Regions from separate parts of the Homo sapiens genome. Here region 2 is linked to region 1. Evidence: fine-mapped expression QTL. Tissue or cell type: pancreas. Region 1 holds a variant in brackets; the other region holds the start of a gene. All regions are shown on one strand. Distances are from middle to middle.

The links. PIP is the estimated chance that this variant, and not a neighbour inherited with it, causes the effect.
Region 2: IGFN1 starts here. The variant in region 1 is fine-mapped to the expression of IGFN1 in pancreas (GTEx, PIP above 0.99).

What each region holds. Positions count from the first base shown.
Region 1 is chr1:201,125,356-201,128,110 of GRCh38, forward strand. It overlaps ASCL5 (achaete-scute family bHLH transcription factor 5), which reads right to left and starts at 1,829. Exons shown (of 2, transcript NM_001270601.2): 1 at 1,729-1,829. RefSeq lists enhancers at 1,023-2,013, 2,014-2,755. The variant AGCCCT/A (reference allele first, on the strand shown) is at 1,618.
Region 2 is chr1:201,189,325-201,191,952 of GRCh38, forward strand. IGFN1 (immunoglobulin like and fibronectin type III domain containing 1) reads left to right here and starts at 1,500. Exons shown (of 24, transcript NM_001164586.2): 1 at 1,500-1,583.

The sequences.
Region 1 (2,755 bases):
TCAGCTTCAGCGTGAACATAACTCTCTTCTCTCAAGCAGCCTCTGCGTTCTCCCCTCTAGCCCATGTTCACAGAGTTGCTCCTTTCCGGGAGAATTAGCCCCTTGCCTTTCCACTCATCCAACTCCTACTTCTGGAAGCTGTTTGGGTCTTTCTTTGTCCACAGAGCTTTACTACCCTCTCCTGTTTCTGCTCTTTCTCCTTCTCCCTGAATCCTAAAGCCTTGGTGCGTTGCTCTCAGTGGTCATAGTTCATTGGCGTGCCCTCGCCTTGCTGTTCACCTTGCTGTGCATTTGTGTCTTGCTCTTTCAAGGAGCAGGAGTTCCTTGAAGGGCAGGAACCTCATGCTCCCTCTGTATCCTGCGGGCCCAGCCCTGCCCCTGACACATAGGAGGTGTCCAAGAAGTAGCCTGATGTGGAGGGGTAATTGAATTGCTGCTGGATGAATGGCAATTGAATGGGCACAGGTGAGTGTCACCAGTCCATGACTGTTATAGCAAAGCAGGTGGTCTCACGAGCCGTGTCACCTTCCTTTAATGTCTGTGGTAGAGCAGCGATGCAGAGGTCTGAGCCTGAAAATACAAAACTCATCCATCCAAACTGCCTCCTCGGGGAGCAGGATAAAAAGCACAGGCACTGAGTGGGAGGAAATGCTGTGTTCTAACGGGGACAGAATCTTGGCTCACACCGTAGGGAAGGAGACTGTTATTTACTAGGCACCTTACCATGTGCTAGCAATTTATTTATTTAATCTCTTCAAGTTCCCTTAGCTCTTTTAAAGTTAATTTTTTTTTTTTTAAGTAACAGGATCTCACCTTGTCATGTGGGCTGGAGAGCAGTGGGACGATCATAGCTCACTGTAAACTTGAACTCCTGGGTCCAAGTAATCCTCCTGCCTCAGCCTCCTGATTATAGCTACACACCACCATGCTGGGTTGTTAAAAATTTTTTTGTAGAGACAGAATCTTGAACTTCTGGCTTCAAGTGATCCTCCCGCCTCAGCCTGCTGAGTGGCTGAGATTACAGGCATGAGCCACTGTGTCCCGCCCTCCCTTAAATCACTTTCTATTCCCATTTTACAGATGGGGAAACTGAGGCTCAGCAAGCTTAAGTGAGTTTAAGGGGGATCATATTTTTAGTAAATAGCATGATTAAAAACAACAAAAATATTTATATAACATTTATTCTATGCCAAGTACTAGTCTAAGCACTTTACCCATTTGATTCTCACATAGTGCTGTGAGCCATATACTATTATTAACCCACTTAACAGGTGAAGGGACAGAGACCTAGATATGCAAATGGCCTGTGGTCCCACAACAATTAAGTAATGGAGCTAGGGTGTGAGCCCGGGCCATCTCTCCTGTGGCCAGGCCCTTCACCACTGCTCTGCACCTCCTGAGCCTGCTCCCAAGTTCAGACCCAGGCCTAGCTCTCCTCCTGCCTAGACCCTTCACGACGAGCAAGTCCATGGGAAAATGCCCGCTCAGTGGCAATGTCCTTGGCAGCACAGCTGATCTCGCCTTCTCCCAGCACTGGTGGGTGCCGTAACCCCAGCCAGCAGGTGGCTTGGCTCTGTTTTCCTTTCCTTTGGGTAGGAAAGCCATCAGGGGTGACTA[AGCCCT/A]GAGTAAACAGTGTTCCTGGCCTCCCTCCTCCAGGCCGGGTGGGGCTATCACTATTTCAGGATCAAACTCGGGCACATCCCTCAGCCACCACCTTCGCACGGTTACCTCTCTGGGTTTGTTCCTCCGGCAGCGCTTATCCTGATCAGTGGCTCTTGAACCTCCTGGGGGGACTGCGGAATCTCCGGGGCTGCCCGCCTGCCCAGCAGCACCTTCAGCAGCCTCTGGCCGGGCTTTCCTGCCACAGCACCGGGAGCCAGGTACACTTTACCTGATTCAACTTCAAACGGCAACACACCCAGAAGGGGAGGGAGGAGGGGCGGCAGGGGGTGGGGGCTCCTCTGATCTGGGATCAGCTCCCAAGAAGGAGAGAGGGCCACTCCTGGCCTCCTGTGATTGGCTGCCCTGAGTCTGGGCAAGTGACATGCAGCTCTGGGCTGGAGCCTAGGAGGAGTGGGGATGCTGTCCTCTAGGGCGCTGCCCTGCTGAGAGCCAAGGGAGGGGGATGCATCTGGCCCAGCTGGCAGGGAGCCTCAGATAGCCTCTGGATGGAAGTCCATACAGCAGGAGGGACTTGAATTAGCGCGTAGGAAATGCGTCGTGAGCGTGAAGGGCAAGAGACCAGGAACACGCAGGGAGTCTCTTTTTATGGGGGAAGTCCTTATGGTCAGGAGAAGACAACACTCTCTCTGGAGTGGCTTTCATGATACCAGTTTGGGGGTGGGGACTGTCAGGTGATCACTGGGCACTCCAGGGGTTGAACCGGGGACTAGGAGGGCTGCAGTGGCTCTCCAGGGACACAGTGCAGGGCTGGGGGGCACTCGCACCGCCAGCCTCCACCAGGGACTGCAGGGTAGCTGCACCGCACATGCACAAAGCTGCCTGAAGCCAGAGCTGGAGGGGCCCGTGGAGGTCACCAAGGCCATCCTCCCCAGTGGCCAGCTGAGGAAAGTGGCACCCAGAGAGGAAAGAGGTGTGCCCAGGGATACGCGGCCCACTAGATGAGCCTCCGGCAAGGCGAAGGCCCAGCTCTGTGTGGTGAGGCCTGCGGCTCTAGGGAGGAGGCCTGTGCTGGGAGCTGGGAGGCCTGTGCTGGGAGCTGGGAGACCTGCGTTCTAGCTTCTGCTTCCCCACC
Region 2 (2,628 bases), 64 kb after region 1:
ACCCTAGGGTGTTCTCCTGGGACTGCACTCCTGGGAGGTAGACTCCTGCCTCTCACTTTCTCCTTCCTCCAATCCCTTCCATTTCTGCAGCCAGAATGAGTTCTTCTAAAATGCAGATTGGATCCTGTCACCCCTCCAGCTTAAACAAACCTCAGTAACCTTTACAATAGAGATCAAAACTCTTCAATGGCCCCCAAAGCCTACCTGTCCAAACTCAACTCTCACTGCCACTCTTTCCCTTGCTCTCCAAGGTCCAGCCCTCCCCTCACACTCTCCATTGTCTCCTTTGGAGCCCCTACATCTACCTGCCCCATTAGACTGTGAACTTCATGATGGGAGGGCCCTGTCACTTGCTTACCTTTGTATTCCTAGGGCTTAACACAGTGCCAGAGCCAGGGCTCAACCCACGGTAGGTGTTCAACACATGTTTGTTGAACAAATGAAAGACCAGCCCTGACACTCAGAAACACACAGGGAGGACACACAAATGTATGTGTGTGTGCATGCATGCACACACATACACGTACTTGCGCAGAAGAGGTCAAACACCTCCCCTCTCGGAGCACATCCAGAGGTAGCGCCTGTAGAAATTGGCAAGATGCTAATCAACACATGTAAATATTCAGTGTCCTCCCCTGGATGCAAACATTCACCCCATTTCCCTTCTACTTCACCTGAATCCTCAATCAAGCCTCGCTTATGGGTGGCAACAAAGCAGTTCTCTGTCCTTAAGGAGAGAGAAGGTGGCTCTTTCAAAGCACACCAGGTGGCCTTATCTCCTGGGCCTCACCTGCCCTCCACTCTCCTTAAGAAAATCTGTTACCAGCCATTGTATTTCCAATTTCCACTTGCCATCCATCTGTCCGACCAAAAACCCAACCATCTGCCCTGCCGACTTCGCCCCCAACCCTGCTGGTCAGGTCACCCCTTCTGTTCCTTGAAAAGCTCCTGAGCAAGCTCACCTTCTCCAGCAGGCCTGCTGACTACACAGTTCCCAGGGTCTCCTCCTTCCTGGTCACTCTCGGTGGACTCTGTGTCTGTGACTCCGTTAATGGCTGCCTTCCCTCCCACTCCCAAAGTTTGCTGCCTGTTTGATACCACTTGGAGGTGTGATTCCCAAGAGGGCAGTGGCTTATGTATCTGTGTGACTTATGGTGTCAAAGGTCCCAAGGGACCAGCTTAGCTGAAAAGTTAAGGGTTTGGATGATGAAAATGTCCTTGCTAAAAAGGGTCGTATAAATGAGGCTTCATGGGGCAAATTTACACTAAGCCAGTCTGGTTAAGAGCTTAAAGCTCTGCAAAGCGAGGAGTTGGATGGACTGATGTCACAGGACCCTTCCATCTCTGACCTCCTCTGAGCTAGAATGTTAGCCCTGGGGGCCTTGCCCTGCCAAGCCTGGACTGGAGGAGAAGGAGGAGGCGGGGTGAGTGGGAGGGGCAGAGGGAGCAGAGGCGCCTGCAGCAACCGACACCTGCTCCAGCCCTGCCTGTCCACTACCAGTCAATCCAGAGCCTCAGCAAGCAGCAGCTGGAAACGGGGAAGAGGGAGCAGACAGGAAGCGGGAGGTCAGCTGTACACCCAGGTAAGTGGGTGCTCACACCTGGCTGCCCACCCGGGCCAGGGTAGGGCCAGGATGGAGACACTAGCCTGCTGTCCAGCTTTTCTACGCAGGAAGGGGCAGGCAGTGGGCAGGATGTCTGCCTGGGGAACATTCCCTGGCTGGCGGATCACACGCTGGGGTGCACCTGTATCCCCTCTAGGTTACTCCAGGATATCTGGAGGAGAGAATTTCAGTGTGTCCTGTCTGGGCATTTCTGTCCTGGCTCTAATTTTCTGGACACGGCTTGACTTTGGGTGTGATACGATGACCAGATTAAAAATATCACTAGCAGTCCAGAATAAGGACCTCGGGCTGGGACTTGTTATATTTTGGTTAGTATCATGGTCAAAGCAGTTGAGAGAACTCCATTTGGCTCTTCCTGCCTCAATTTCTACCAGTTGAGAGGTAGCAGGGACCAACTGGAGGTAGCAGGGACCTGGATGTGCAGGATGGATCCGGGGAGGGTAGGGAAAAAGGATGGGGAGCCATAGGTCCTGGAGAGGGGGCAGGGAGGGACTGTCCCAGGATCCAGTGCTGAGAGTGTTGTTGGGACAGCTGAAGTGAGGACACAAACTGCTGTTTCCTTCTGGGAAGAACTGGAGTTCTTCTCAAATGTGGGAATGAATTATGGAGGAGAGAATTCATTTCCTTTCTCATCCCTTCCAACTGAGACTACATCCCTCTAGTCTCCAATCCAACAGATCTCTTTCCCTGTGTCATTGACTTTGTACCAAATCTGGCTTATTCTAAAAGAGAGTGGAGCTCCAGAAGTGGATGCTTAACGTCACATCCCTAAGTTCCCCCAAGAGCTTTGCTTCTTTTGCCCTCCTCTGCTGGGAGCTGTAGGCAGGAGGCTGGAGGGAGAAGAGTGGTATCAGCGTCATCCTTCTTCATGTGTGACCAATAGCTGAGTAACAGGATGATAGCTGCTCGTGGTGATGATGTGGGTGACGATGGGGATGATGACTCAGATAGCTGTGTTGAACTCAAACTACTCCAGTGTGGGGGTCACCGACTGGCACCAGTG